3 separate regions of the Homo sapiens genome follow, and all the other regions are linked to region 3. Evidence: fine-mapped QTL for protein levels in blood plasma. A gene starts in region 3. Each other region holds a variant in brackets. All regions are shown on one strand. Distances are from middle to middle.

Region 1 (5,332 bases), 130 kb after region 3:
AGCTAATTTTTGTAGGGTTTTTGTGTGTGTGTGTGTGTGTGTGTGTAGGGACAGGGTTTCAACATGTTGCCCATGCTGGTCTCAAACTCCTGTGCTCAAACCATCTGCTTGACTCGGCCTCCCAAAACGCTAGGATTACAGGCATAAACCACCACTGCAAATGGCCAGGAATGTCTTTTAATTTTGCTTTCTAAACTTGTTCTGTTGTTAAATTCAAGTACAATAAAAAATAAATAAGGTTTGGGGAAAAATGCATTTGAAAAAATACAATTAAATCTTACATTTTAAAACACAGCATATAGAATATATCCCATTTTATATTTTTTACTCTATCTATCCCCCTTCATGTTGACATATATTAATATAAAAGAGAGATTACAAAGAGACAAGGGATGATTATCTCTGGGTTGTGGGAGTTCTGGGGCTGTTTTCATAATTAAAAAATATTTTATTGCTTAAATTTTTAAAAAAGGAGCATGTGCCACTTTTATAAAATCAACAAAGTAAAGAAATAGTGAATAAAAGATGAAAAGTAAACAGTATTTGTGTAGAGAATACACTCTTTCAAGAAGCTGCTGTGAGGAAGAGAATTGAGAGAATTCAAATTAAGGAAATTCTCTCCAAAGCTTTGCCTCCTTGCTTCTTGTTGAAGAAGGGAGGTACTGGGATATAACTGAATGCTGATGAGATTGATTCAGAAGCAAGGATGTGTACATATGGCATATTCAGAAAAGAAAAAATGATCTATAGTGCAAGAATCCTTCCTGAGAAGGGGAGAGTGGGTGGTTTCACAGGGCCCATTGCAAACTAGTGTGTTAAGAGGTGGGAGAGAGGGGAAAGGAGAATATGGGTGTGGGCAGGTGCAGACGGGTATGTAGATTTCGAACCAGTGGTAGAAAGTTGAAAGGTTTAATAGCTGATTACTTGTATTGTCTCAGTGAAATTGGAGACAAATCATTACTTGAGAATGGGTGGTGGGCTGGGTGTGGTGGCTCACGCCTGTAACCCCAGCACTTTGGTAGGCCAAGGCGAGAGGATCACTTGAGCTCATGAGTTTGAGACCAGCCCAGGCAACATAGAGGGGCCCTGTCTCTAAAAAAAATATATAAAAAACCAAATTAGCCAGGAGTGATGGTGTGTGCTTGTAGTCTCAGCTACTCAGGAGGCTAAGGTGGGAGGATCACTTGAGCCTGGGAGGTTAAGGCTGCAGTGAGCCGTGATAGCACCACTGCACTCTGGCCTGGGTAATAAAATGAGATTTTGTCTGAGAGAGAGAGAGAGAGAGAGAGAGAGAGAGAGAGAGAGAGAGAGATAATAGGTAGTGGGAATTTTGAGGAAATTGCAAAAAGTATGAAAGGGTAGAAAATGTACTATACTACTGTAGACATATAATAAGATTAGTGGACACTGTTGAGGGCTTAGTTGAGATTGCTGATTGTAAATATAAAGTGACAGCAATCTGTATGTTTCAATGATATTTCTCCAGCCTTGCTCAGCTGTTTGGGTGCAGGTGTGGAGAAAGGGGTTGGTTGAGCTCACTCATGATAGGTGCTCTGCTCAGAGTGTGTGAAACAATGAGAAGATGGTTCAAGGGGAGTTCAGAAATTTGCAGGATGAGGATTGTAATGGAATCTAACATGGATGAAGAGAGAAGTGAAGAAGCTCTGATGAGTGAGAAATCTGTGAGTTGAAGAGGTGTAATCTGTGAGTTGAAGAGGATGACAAATTTGAAGAAATTTTGTCCCCAGGGCATGAGCTGTATGTCTTCCATTCAAATACAGAGAAAGAAGACTGGCCAGAGTATTCATATTAAAGTTCTAGTCCCAGCTCCTCTGGGATGAATAGTTTTGTGGTTTGGCATAAGCCTTTCACCTGGGACTCAGTTTCCTTATCTGTAAATAAAAGGCTTGACTTGGATCAGTATATCTCAAATTTCAGGGCACACACAAATTAATTGAGTATCTTGTTAAAATGCAGATTTTGATGCAGTAGGTCTTGGGTGGGGTCTGGGGTTTTGTATTTATAATAAGCTTCCACATGATTCCTGTGCTGCTGGTCCATGGACCATACTTTGAGTAGCAAGGAACAGATAAATTCTATAGGCTTCAAAATTCTGATTATAAATCTTGGACCTTGAACTACGTTTTCACCTCCTCCTTGTCTTCTTTTTTTTTGAGCTTTGTCAATTCATCTTGAAACCAAATCTTGGGACACTTCTTTTGATTTCCCTTAACTGGGCAGGAAGTAAATAGAGAAAGATGCAAACCCTGCAGAATGACCAACACCCAGTAACGGAAACAGAGGGTTCTGATGACGTCTTACAGCTTGTGCCTGGGTGGGGGTAAATGGTACTGCCTTTTCCCAGGCATGGTGTGTCGAACAGGAACGTACTATCAGGCAGGAAATGGCTCCAATACAAACAGGGACACCAGAGATCAGGCTAGACGAGAGACCGATCACAGCAAATGGCATACTACAGACAGCTACTCAGATCAATTTCCTTCCTCTGTCATGTCAAAAGGTTTTGCTGCGTCAAGATTCCTTTGCCTAAAAAACATATGTTCCCAGTCTAATATATTTAAAGCTGATCACCACAAATCTACTCAGGCAACTTTAGGTTTCATTTTATCTTGAGGCTAGAGCCTACTGGAAGATCATCTGGTAATGACTTAGAGAAACCCACTTAAACTGTTCCCATATTGAATGTTTCCCATATGTAATGTTTACATTTCAAAAGGTCTCGACTATTAGAATGTGTTTTTCTGGGCTGAACATGTTTTTCACAGGCAATAAACTCATGTTTCAATTATTAGAAAAATAGTAAGTGCTTTAGCAGGCTGAATTTGATATATTGGATCCAAAAGCAGAATTTATTATAAGGAGAAATCGCTGAAAGAAATGAACATAAGATGTTTGTAACAGTCATAACTATTTGAGGACAGTTTTTGTTTAATGATAGCGATGGTAGGAAATGCTGAGGATGAGCAATTTAGGGAAGAGCCAGAATCAACGTTTCCTTTCAGGATCTGGTTCAATGGAGGAGGAAATCATTCCGAGAAATACTTA[T/C]CAGCTTGATATCACACACAAAACTGACCATAGGCCAAGTTTAGAAAGGACTGTGAAAGGCACACTCAGGGTCTGAATATCAACTTCCAGCCTTTCATCTGGTGGGCAACCTGCTTTCTTAGAGAGGGAGCTCTGCCACCCTGAGACTGAAGAAGGGGTTGATATCGTTTAATAGCCCCTTCTTGCTTTCCAAAGGTCAGTTGGCCCCACATTTGAGGATGGCAAAAAAAAAAAAAAAAAAAAAAAAAAAAAAAAAAAGAAGAGAGAGAGAGAGCAAAAAAGAGCCATCTTATCTAAGGTCTGCCTGTTAGGTTTTCTTTAAATATTCTGACTCCATCCAAGAAATGTCTTGGAATGTATTTTACATTAATCTAAGCCATCTTTATCTCCAGGAAATGATTGGGTCTCACAGATGAAAGTAAGGGTGTTTATTGCTAGCAGCCATTTGCAGTGGAGAGAGCAATCTACTGAACTGTGAAAAGAGCAGTCACAAAAGTCCATTTCCACAGGAGAAGAACACTGTGCACATAAACACGAATGAACTCAATAAATGCAAATGAACTCTCTGCTTGCTCTCCTCCCTCACTTCTTACTGGGCCTCCATACATACTATTGAATTCACAGGCCCTGAAATAGATGACAGCATTGAGTAATTAAGCTGAAATATCACACTAGGTCACTTTAATTATAAAGCCAGAGCTCATTAATGGATGGAAACATGGAAGCAGGAATTGGAATAACCTTGCTTAAAATGCATTAAGTTATCATTTTGCAAAGCCAAGAAATTTCAAGGATTTTCACAATAGGCATTGTGGAGATTTTTTTTCTAAAGGGCTGGGTAGGGGTATGAATGGATTATAAGACTGCAAATTGCTTTGAATAAAGTAGAGGTTTTTTTTTTTTTTTTTTTTTTTTTTTTTAATAGAAGGAGTTTCTACTACATGTAGCAAATTAAATTCCAGATGTTATATCACTACAAAATCTCTACCAGATGTCCAAACTCATGGTGGCTGGGATGTTTATTGCAAGTAAGGCATTAAGCACCTGTTCTACAGAGACCTCCCCTTACCTTTTCATCTGTACTAGCACGTTAATCATGCAGGAGCGATGAAATATTTAGTCCTCACTGGATAATTAAAGAGGCCAGGAAAAATTCTAAAACTGTTAATTACTCTAAATGCCATTTAAGTAAATGACTACAGTGCTCCTCTTGGGATATTTCTGAAGACTTATCAAGAACACTTTCAAAATATGAGATTCCATTTTTGGAAGCTAATTCAAGGTGGAAAAAGGACTTCAGACCAAATAATCTAACCTAAAGGACAGTTATCCACATTTAGCATATGTCCTGGTTTGAAAAAAAAAAGCAGCCCCAATTGCTGCTATAAAATATCTCATTTGCTCAAGAGTCACTTATGGCAGAACCTTCAGTTTTAGAAGCCTCTGTCTTTTCTGTTGCATAACGTAAATGAACACTGATCTGTAAGCACATTGCCAGTCAGTGCGGCGGCACTCCCAGGCTGTCGGAGGTGGACCCTTAGACAAGTCACTTCTCTCTTTGGTGTCATACTTCAATCTGAATGTAAATTTGAATTCTACAGTTTAAGATCTGTGTTAAAAATAAGTTAGTTATGATTACAATCATTGCTACTTTTGAGTGAATGCTGAAATTTCCACTAAGTCAATCAGAATTTAACCAATTTCTGGCATATGTAATGATATTGTCTCTGTAGCTTGCTGTTTGATAGGGAGGTTGAGCAAGAGGAAGTAAATAAGGAGGCTTTCTTTGAGGCTCATACTACCATGTCATCTGTCCTTCACACATTCTCTCTTCTTATCTACAGTCGCTTTAGATGGCAAGACAAATTACCTTTTTATGATCTTCTTTTGCCTTCTGAGACCTGCCCTTATGAAGGAATTAGCCTGAATTTCTTTAAAAATTTTTTAAAAGATCTTATTTTTTTTCAGAGCTGCTTTAGGTTCACAACAAAATCAAGCAGAAAGTTCACCTTCACACATGCACAGTCTTCCCTACTATCAACATTCTGCACCAGCGGGGTGCATTTGTTACAATCGATGAACCTACCTATCATTACATTTTCCAGAAACTGGTTAAATTCTGATTGATTTAGTGGAAATTTCAGCATTCACTCAAAAGTAGCAATGATTGTAATCATAACTAACTTATTTTTAACATAGATCTTAAACCGTAGAACTCAAACTGACATTCAGACTGAAGTAAAACAGCAAAGAAAGAAGTGGCTTG
Region 2 (5,332 bases), 52 kb after region 3:
GCTTGTGCATATACTGAACTAGTGTTTAGACTATGCTCATATATATATTCATGCAATTTAGACATGGTAAAAATGATAAAAACTAGCATAAATGAGTAATAAACCAGCTCATATATTAAACACCAGGCTTAGAAGATCCAGAAGATATTTAATCTGTTCATCAAAGAGGAAGCTGACTGAACAGTTAATCAGGGCCGGGCGTGATGGCTCAGGCTTGTAATCCCAGCACTTTGGGAAGCCAAGGCGGGTGGATCACCTGAGATCAGGAGTTCAAGACCAGCCTGGCCAACACGGTGAAGCCCCATCTCTTCTAAAAATACAAAAAATTAGCTGGGCATGATGGCAGATATCTGTAATCTGAGCTACTCAGGAGACTGAGGCAGGAGAATCACTTGAACCCTGGAGGTGGAGGTTGCAGTGAGCTGAGAACATGCCACTGCGCTCTAGCCTGAGCAAAAAGGCAAGACTCCATCTCAAAAAAACAAACAAAAAAACCTGTTAATCACATAAGCCTTTCCTTGTGTCTTCAAGACGTGAAAATATAGGAATCCAAAGATGGAAAATTTTAACTGAAGAAAGCTCTTGGTTTGAAATTAGGAAATTTAATCTACAAGAGTGAAAGGGCATTAGAACCACCTAGTACATTTAAAGCAGAGGACAATTAAGAGACAGTTGAGAAGTGTGCTGAAAACTCAATGATGATAATAAGAAAATCGGGAAAAAGTAACTATTGTCTATATGCCAAGTGGGAAAGAAGATGGAAATAAAGGGTATCAAAGCAAGTGGTCAGTTACTGATTACTTTTTTTCTCCCTGTACATGCCTGGGCACTGTGGGGGTGTCGTGATTGATTTATATTGATAGGAAGTTCAGAGAAGTTGAGATGGTTACAGCAGAGAATCAGATGCTGCCTTATAGTACTCTTTTTTTTTTTTTTTTTTTGCTTTCGTTTAGAACAGTATGTCTCCGTTCCGGAACTCTTCCATCTGCTTACTATTATGTAATGACTACAAAGCTGTTTGGCAGGAACTACAATGCCAGAGAGTAGATGTTGGCTTAGAGTCAAACTTTTTACCTCTTAAGTCAGAGCTAGTTAGGGTAAAGGGACTTGGGCCATATAATCTAAAGATGGATATGACACTCTTTATCTTCGCAGCTACTACCCCAGTTTATACCACACATGCATCTGTCTGAAACACATGAAGATCCTTCTGACTGGTCTCCTTAGAGTCCATTCTCTATAATCCATTCTCCAAATAGCAATCAGTGATCTCTTAAAAGAACAAAAAAGAAATTTGATCACATCCCTTCCTTGATTCCATGCTTCCATTGACTTCCCATTGCATTTCCAATGGAGACCCAGATCTTTACCTAGCCCTTGCCCTCCTCTCTATTCTGTCTCCCTTGCTTCTTTCTCTCCAGCAAACTTCCTTGCTGTTCCTGAACATGCTAAGCTCACTCATGCCTAAGGACATTTGCACTTGCTATTTTCTCTCGATAGCTGCCTCTGCCATCATATCCATTTAGTGAGCACCTACTGTGTGCCAACAGCTGTGGTATTAGCATTAGGCAAATGATGTTTCCTCACTGGTTGAAAATCTCTACCTGTTGAATTGGTTTCTGAAAAGCTGTGATTTCTTTTTTTCTTCCGTTCGTTTTGTAAGATTAAGACAGAAATGATTAAAAAAAAATAGGTGGCCTTATGGGGCCATTTGAGTATTTGAATATCATGTATTTGAGTATTTGAGCATCATGGGGCCGTTTGACTATTTGAGTTGTTATAGTGGACAGTTTTTGACACCAACTGTTTTTACCTTTTCAGTAAGGTCCTTATAACTGTTTTAGAGAGAAGAAAAAGAAAAGGTGAAGTTCAGTATTTATAATAAATATGTTAATTAAATACAGTCTGGCTGGGTGCGGTGGCTCACACTTATAATCTCAGCACTTTGGGAGGCTGAGGTGGGTGGATCACCTGAGGTCAGGAGTTCGAGACCAGCCTGGCCAACATGGGGAGACCTTGTCTCTGCTAAAAATACAAAACTTAGGTGGGTGTGGCGATGGATGCCTGTAATCCCAGCTACTCAGAAGGCTGAAGCAGGAGAAATGCTTGAACCCGGGAAGCAGAGGTTGCAGTGAGCCAAGATTGCGCCACTGCACTCCAGCCTGGGTGACAGAGTGAGACTCTGTCTCAAAAAAAGAAAATATTAAAAAATACAGTCTATTTTAAATTTAGGCATTTTAATGATATTGAACCCAGTTTTGTCTATATCTAAACATTTAACCAGCATACAACTCAAATTATACTCTAGTTCACATATATGTATGTTGAAATATATTATTAATTTATTAAATAAGTTTATATTGGTAACATGTACCTTAAGGATTTGTAAACACACATGACATACTTCCTGATCTGGGTTTTTTTGGAAATGATTTTTATGCAATAATATTCTGCAGTGTCCATTTTAATTGATTTTTCAAAAACAAACTAAGAAGATGTAAAAGCAGTTGGTTCTCTGGAAACTTGTGGTTAAATAAATGTAATTTCTTCTTTGAATGTTTAAAATGTAAGTAAGTTGTATCTTAAGAATTTTTCATTTGTTTTGGTCAAATTTAAATTCTGCTTCTTGACACTTAAACTTATAACTAGCTAATTCCTATGGCTTTTATGTTATATTTTTTAAAATTCTTTTTTTAACCCCTAGATTTCGACCTCATCAGGATGCAAAC[C/T]CCGAAAAACCACGTGTTGCTGCTCTAATTGACAGGCTCATTGCTTTTAAAAATAATGATAATGGAGCTTGGGTCAGAGGAGGAGATATTATCGTTCAAAATTCAGCGTGGGTATTCTCTACCAAGTTATTATATGATGACACTGATGTATTATTTTTCAGATTTTTTTTAAAGCCAGTAGCATGAAAGCACAGTGATGATTCTTGGAATCATATTATTATTATTAAGACAGGACAAGCTCTGAGGAAGTATGCTAGAGTTAAAAGACCACAAATGTTTGAAGTTGTCTCATTCTGGTGCTTTTATTGGAACAGAACTTATCCGGTGACATGAGAGTTTTTGATGAAATTGAACAGAAACCGGGAATTTAACTTTATATAACAAGCATGGTCTATGTCAGAGCGCTAAATAAAACTACCTGGATCTTTTCCCTTCCTCTTGAAAACTCCTTAGTTTTTCTGATGCTCTTCTATTGCCATTCAAAATAAAAGCTTTATAATTCCAACTCAGTAAATCTGTTGACTTATATCTTAACATGACTTGAGGCAGTAAGTATCTCACTTTTTTTCCCATTTGTATAATTTTAGGAGTGGTCTCATGCATGTTGAGCTAAGATTTAGTGTTCAACAGTCTAGAAAAATGTGTGTGTGTATTTTTTTTTCTGGCACTGAAATTAGCTTCTTGGCATTTCACATCATTTCTGAGTTTTTTCATCCAAAAAACTGATACTGTGTTGAATCTGTAGAAATGGCTTCAGAATCATATACCACAGTCTAGTTGTTTTTAAAACATAGTTATAAAAATAATAATTATAGCTAATACTTTGATACACTGCTTACTGTTTGCCAGGCACTGTTCCTAACATTAGAAATTATTATTTTTTGAGACAGGGTCTTGCCCTGTCACCCAGGCTAGAGTTCAGTGGTGCAATCATAGCTCACTGCAGCCTCAACTTTCTATGCTCAAGCAAACCTCTCACCTTAGCCTCCCGAGTAGCTGGGACCACAGGCATGTGCCACAACGCCCTGCTAACTTTTAAATTTTTTGTGGAGACAGAGTGTCCCTGTGTTGCCCATGCTGGTCTTGACTTCCTGGGCTCAAGCGATTCTCCTGCCTCAGCCTCCCAAAGTGTTGGGATTACAGGCATGAGCCACCATACCTTGCCAACACTAGAAATTATTTAGTATGTTTAATACTCTCAAGAATCCTATGAGGAAGGTTATATTTTCATTTCAACTTACAGATGGGAAAAGTGAGAGATAGAGGTTGAGTAGGTTGCCAAAAGTCACACAGCTAATAATTGACAAAGCCCGGATTTGAACTGGGTGCCCTCACTGCAGATTCTGTGCTCCTAGTTATTGTGAAATCAAATTTTTGTGTGGTCATGTAGAGAGTAAATATTGGGACCTTTTGGATTTCATGATAATTAAATATTGAGAGAATTACCTCTTTTTACATAATATGGTAAATTAAAATGTTCTTCATTCTCTCTTCTTTTACAGATTTGCAGATAATGGAATAGGACTGACCTTTGCCAGGTTTGTAATTGCTTAAAAATACTTACTTATTTTAAAGCTTTAAAATAACCCTTGATTTTTTTTTCTGATAATACACAGGAATGTTTTATTATTTTTTTTAACATAAAAAAAATTAGCAACCTCTTCCTGATGCCACTAGAGGGCCAAAAATACATTTTTTTTTTTCTGGATTAATTGAATTCATAGCAAAGTACTAGGTTAATATAGCTGGAATTTCACAGAAGGATAATTTCTGCTTAGAAGAAAACACTTGCGATTTAGACTAAAGTTTTTAAAAAGTAGGGGAAAAAAGAGGAAGGGAGTAAAAGTAGGGAGAAAATTAAAAAACTAATATTTGCTTTCTTAGAAGCTGCTCTAATTTAGCAAGTTTAGTTCTTTAAGAACTAAACTTTTTGTTCTGTATGTTTTTCTACAGATAATAGTCATTCTAGTTGTCATGTTAAATATGCTTGTCATTTAATTCTTATATTCAGGACAAGTTTGTTCTCCTCATTCTCAGTGTTATTGCTTGAGACTAGAGCAATCAATTATTGCTGCTAAATTAAAGTTTGTTTATATATAATTTGTAAATCATTTATTAATTCATATGAGGGCTGGACATACCGGCTCACACCTGTAATCTCAGCAGTTTGGGAGGCCAAGACAGGAGGATCGCTCAAAGCCAGGAGTTTGAGACCAGCCTGAGCAACATAGCAAGACCCTGTCTCTACCAAAAATAAAAAAATTAACCTTAACCAGGCATAGTGGCATGCCTGTAATCTTAGCTACTCTGGAGGCTGAGATGGCAGTATCCTGTGAGCTCGAGTTCAAGGTTGCTGCTCCAGCCTGGCTGACAGAATGAGACCCTGTCTCTTTAAAAAAAAAAAAGTATATATATATATATATATATATCTTAAGAGGGATATATGTATGTATATATATATTAGGCTATAAGTAGGTATAGGTATTTTTATAGTTTAAAAGCAATTTCAAGGCTGAGTGTGATGGCTCATAACTATAATCCCAGCATTTTGGGAGGCTAAAACAGGATGATCACTTGAGGCCAAGAGTTTAAGACCAGCATGG
Region 3 (5,019 bases):
GACCTCACCTCCAATGCTGGGGATTACAATTCAGCATGAAATTTGGGTGGGGACACAGATCCACACCATATCAGTGAGTGACATGGAGATGCACTGCCCAGATTTGCTTGCAAAGAAGGACTTGCTGCCGAGCTCTGGGTGCTGTCAGCAACTGGCCCTTTTGGAGACTGCCTCAGCTGCAGGGTCGCCTTGACCAAGGTCATGTCACGTCCCAGGATGAACGACATCCAATGACTGATTCAGGAGGGTATCTAATGGTCCAGTCATTTAGGCTCAATAATTCCAATGGGCCATCTCTCAGATCCCCCAGTGGGATCAATGAAGGCCATTGGGTACACCCCAGCTACTCCCTTTGCCCATGCTGCTTCCTGCCTGTCCCCCACAGGTGAAACATCTTGTCAGTGTCTCAGAGCCTGCTTCCCTGAGAACTCAATCTGTGACATCAGTCCCATTGATCAGAGAAGTCTGTGTCCTCTTACTTTGTTGGTTTCCTTCATAGCTTCCTTTCACATCAGTTTCCTTTGATTTTTTTTTTTTTTGAGACGGAGTCTCCCTCTTTTGCCCAGTCTGGAGTGCAATGATGAGGTCTTGGCTCACTTCAACGTCTGCCTCCCAGGTTCAAGCAATTCTCCCGCCTCAGCCTCCCGAGTAGCTGGGACTACAGGTGCGTGCCACCATGCCCGGCTAATTTTTGTATTTTTAGTAGAGGTGGGGTTTCACCATGCTGGCCAGGCTGGTCTTGAACTCCTGACCTCAGGTGATCCGCCTGCCTTGGCCTCCCAAAGTGCTGGGATTACAGGCTTAAGCCACCGTGCCCGGCCTTTCCTTTGATTTTTTATGTTCCAGATAAATATCTAAAAACAAAAGTTTATACAATTCTCAAAGATAGGCCACACACAGATTCAATCCCCCTACCCTTTTTTTTTTAGTTAACAGACTATATTTTAGAGCAATTTTAGGTTCACAACAAAATTGAGCGCAAGTGTAAAGAGGTCTCCTACACCCCTGTTCCCCACTAGCCCACTCCACTATCAATCAACATCCATTTCCCTTGGTTTGGGCAATAAATACAGATTGTGGAAATAAATAAGTCCTTTTTAAAACCAAAAATTTTATTAGACTAATGTATATAAATTTTTAATTGCTTGTTTTGTTTTGTTTTGTTTTTTTGAGATGAAGTCTCGCTCTGTAGCCCAGGCTGGAGTGCAGTGGCTCGATCTTGGCTCACTGCAAGCTCCACCTCCCGGGTTTACGGCATTCTCCTGCCTCAGCCTCCCGAGTAGCTGGGACTACAGGCGCCTGCCACCACACCTGGCTAATTTTTTGTGTGTTTTTTTTTAGTAGAGATGGGGTTTCACCATGTTAGCCAGGATGGTCTCTATCTTCTGATCTTGTGATCCACCTTCCTTAGCCTCCCAAAGTGCTGGGATTACAGGCGTGAGCCACCGCGCCTGGCCTAATTGCTATTTTTAACATTTGAGTGGTTTGCAGACTTGATTCCAAGAGGTTCTTACTGTGTGGCCTTGGGAAGACCCTTTAAATTTTCAAGTCCTACTGTCCCATCTTTAAAACGGAAATAATAATTAGTGGGAGGATTTAATTAGACAACATATCCCATAACATATCCTAACTCCAAGCAAAGTGCCTGGCACTTAATAAGGATTCAAAAAATGGATATTTGTAATATAAAGTTGGCCCAGCACAGGCCTCCTATGCTGCAACATATCACCCAAACTCAGTGTAGCTTACAACTGAAGTTTATTCTTTCACACTTCTGGAAGCAGGAGACTGCGCTCAGTTTCACTGGGCCAAAATCAAGGTGTCAGCAGGATCTTGCTCACTTCAGAGTTTCTAGGGGAGAATCCTTGCCTCTGTGCTGGCATTCCTTGCCTTGTGGAGGCATCGCTTCAATCTCTGCCTCCACAGTGGCCAGCCCTCCTCTGTGTGTGCTAACCACCCCCTTTCCCCTTATAAAAGTACATGTGACTGCAGTTAGGACCCATCTTGATCATCCAGAATAATCTCCCCAACTCAAGAAGACCCTTAATTGAATCACATATGCGAAGGCCCTGCTTCTGTCTATGTAAGGTAATATGCACAAGTTCCAGGACTTAGAACCTGTTATCTCTGGGGAGGGAACATTTTTCAGCCTAGCACACGGGTGACACAGTTTCTATCTTTATTAAGCACAATCCAAAACACCTTTGGACCATGAAAACAGTCTTTTGTCCCTTCCATCTTGTTATTCAAAACTATGTTCCTTATTTTAAAAACCTTTCCTCCCTGCCTATCCCAGAAGGGACAGCGGCTCTCAAAGGCAGCTGGGTGAAGTTTCTGTAAGATCTCAGCACTAGCTCGCGCTGCTGTTTTGGAGGCATCTTTCCAAGGCTTTAATTAATTAGAGGATGCATTCTAGCCCTGTTTCCCAAACTTACATATTCCCGATACCTCTGATTCAGTAGATTGCGCGACGTCTGGCAATCCAATTTTTTCTAAGTGCCCCAGGGGATTCTTATCATCAGCCAAGATTTGGAAACAGTAATTTCTTATACAAAGTCCTGAACTAATACCCTTGAAATAGGGGATTCCCCTTCACTGCCGGGTGTGTCGCGGTTACAGGACTGAGTTTGTTGAGGGAGGAGGAATGAACAACCCTGAAAACTAAACTATCCTACCTTGTATATTATTCACTGAAAGAGTTTCCTGGAGGGAAAACTTCCAATTCCAATTAAATCGAGGATGACGACGGCCCGGATTTGGCAGTCCTGCAGCTGTCACTAGCTCGGGACCTCGTGCGTCTGAGTGATCCAGCCCGGGCCGCGCCCTCACCCAGAGCCAAGGCTGTGAGAGCAGCTCCAGCGAGGGGGCAGGGTGGCGGCGGCAGGGCTGCTTCAGGGCCGGTGCCGGTGTCCTCAGAGCGGCGTTTTGGCACTGGGGTGGGCCGGGGCGTGGCTTTCGGCGCCACCTCTGCAAGCGGCCGCCACTCCAGAGTGGCGCAGGTAGGGGGCGTGGGAAGACCTAAGTATATTTATTCCGGCCTGCGAGCGGGATGCTGGGGTTGCTCCAAGGGACCAGAAGAGCTGCCCTGTGTCCCAGAGCAGGCTGGTTCTTCTGACAGCGCTGAGAACCTGGCGCTCGCGCCTGGCCAGGTAGGGGCTGTGACTGGACGCTCAGAACATTTGTGGGAGTGTGGAAATCTCTTTACGGGTGATGGGGCTCAAAGTCTGACGCAGCCGAGGGTTGATGGGGTGCAGTCACGCTCAGCCAGGGGACTTTGGGGGCGCAGTGTCAGGCTCAGCCAGGGAGTGACAGGCGCAGTACCAGCCTTATCTGGGGGTGCTGGAGGCACAGGCTCCGGTTCGGCCAGGCGGGTGTGCGCGCCCAGGAAGGGTAGGAGCCTGCAGCCGCAGCGGGGGGCGCTGGCTGGGGCTCTGCCCCGCCGGCAGTGCGCTCGGGCGCTGTTCCAGCGCGCGGCAGCGAGTGGCGCTGAGCCTCCGCTTTCGCAGCTCGCGGGGAGCGGGGCCGGCGGGAGGGGCCGGGCGGGGCCACCGCCTCCTCTGATGGCAGGCTCCTCCTCTCCCTCCGCCTCCCTCGCTCTCCACCGCCCGCCCGCCCGCCCGCCCAATCCACAGTTCCCGGCCCAGCCGAGCCGGGCTGCTTGTCTGGCCGGCGGAGGCTGAGCGCGACCCTAGCAAGCCGCGGCGCCCGCCGACCAGGGACAAGAGCGACTCCTGGGACCCCACTCTGCCCCGCGCCGCCGCCTCCTCCCCTGTTGTCGCGGGGACGCTCAGGCCCGCGCCGCCCGGGCCACGATTCTCCTCCTCTTTCTCCCGGAGGGGAAGGAACGGAGAAAGCCGAGCGGCGGCTCCGGGAGAGAGCGAGCCGAGGCCCCTGCCCCCGAGGCTCGGGGCAGGAGGAGGAGGAGGAGGAGGAGGCGGAGGCGGAGGGAAGTGCGCGTCACTCTCGGGAGGAGAGTATTTCACCTCCAGGCAGAGGCTGCGGCTGCCAGTTGAGTACGAGCGGCAGCTGCGGGCGCCGGCAATCGAGTGGCTTCCTGGCCATGGAGAGGAGATCTGGACCCGAGGACGCCAGGGACTCCTCTCCGTCTCCCTGGACCGCTGTGTAGGCACCTGAGTTAACGGACGCTAAGCGGGGTAGGGGAAGGTAAGAAGCGACTCGGTCACCCGCCCCCCCACCCCGCTCCACCTCGTTTGCTGCCCTCGGGGGCCACTGCGGGGACGCAGACCCGGGTCTCGCCCACCTTTTCTGCTCCCGGCGGCCTGGCCGGCTCCGGCGTTGGGCATTTCTGCCGAAAAGGAAAACGTCCTCCCGCCCTTCCCCCGTGCGCCTCCTTTCCCGGTTTCATCTCTGGATTGGGACTGACCCGACTCCCCAGGAGTCAGTCCTCTCTTCTTAAGAAAGGGTCCTCGGGAACGGTGTCTTGATTTCTTTCTCTCCACTCTCTCTTTTCATTACGTTTACGGGGAAGGGAACAATGGACCTTTCAAAGTCGGTGCGAACAGCCTTAAACTTTCTGGAGAGGGATGGGGTGAGGGGATAAACCCCACAGTAAGCCGATTACAGTGAAAGGTTGATGGAATGTGCTTTGCAGTCCGGGCTTCAGTGCGCGCGCGCTTGTGCGTTTGGGGTCATCTTTGTCTCCTTACAATTCCCCTGGGTTGGTGGGTCCTCCGCCCTCCGCCCCCTGCCTCTCTGTTAGCTGAGGTAAGGTGAGGCTTTAAAATCGTGTACAGCTTCCTTTAAATCTGGGGAATAGCCTTAGCCCTGGACCCTATTCCCAGCTTTTCTCTGCAGAGTTGGGAGATCCTGGTAAAGGAGGGGGGCCCTCTCTGTGAGGACCCAGAGTGCTGCTGTTAATAGCACTAGTGGCTACACCCTTAGCGATAAAACCAAGGTCCTGAATTCCCTGGATGCTCTCTGCTGAGGGTTGATGAGTGTCACCAGACTTCGACCTGGAGCGGAAACAGCTCACTTGAATTCTCCGCAGGTTAGGAAAAC

Direction of the effects. Alleles are on the strand shown, and positions count from the first base shown. The strength of an association depends on the size of the effect and on how common the allele is.
As copies of C replace T in region 1, the plasma level of the protein whose gene starts at base 4,008 in region 3 goes down (moderate association).
With allele C in place of T in region 2, the plasma level of the protein whose gene starts at base 4,008 in region 3 is higher (weak association).

What was found. PIP is the chance, under the fine-mapping model, that this variant and not a neighbour inherited with it causes the effect. The UK Biobank Pharma Proteomics Project read protein levels with antibody pairs (Olink). The fine-mapping took linkage between variants from a reference panel, not from the people measured, so its PIPs are less certain.
Region 1: its variant is fine-mapped to the plasma level of the CEMIP2 protein (UK Biobank, PIP above 0.99).
Region 2: its variant is fine-mapped to the plasma level of the CEMIP2 protein (UK Biobank, PIP 0.98). The variant lies in the coding sequence of CEMIP2. If it changes the protein, the assay may bind it differently, which can mimic a change of level.

What each region holds. Positions count from the first base shown.
Region 1 is chr9:71,635,859-71,641,190 of GRCh38, reverse strand. No RefSeq gene overlaps it. Among named protein-coding and RNA genes, the nearest start is that of CEMIP2, 130 kb to the left of the region's middle. The variant T/C (reference allele first, on the strand shown) is at 3,067.
Region 2 is chr9:71,715,452-71,720,783 of GRCh38, reverse strand. It overlaps CEMIP2 (cell migration inducing hyaluronidase 2), which reads left to right. Exons shown (of 24, transcript NM_013390.3): 13 at 2,705-2,836; 14 at 4,232-4,267. Among named protein-coding and RNA genes, the nearest start is that of CEMIP2, 50 kb to the left of the region's middle. The variant C/T (reference allele first, on the strand shown) is at 2,730.
Region 3 is chr9:71,767,502-71,772,520 of GRCh38, reverse strand. CEMIP2 (cell migration inducing hyaluronidase 2) reads left to right here and starts at 4,008. Exons shown (of 24, transcript NM_013390.3): 1 at 4,008-4,164. RefSeq lists enhancers at 2,987-3,668, 3,669-4,350 and a silencer at 3,244-3,913.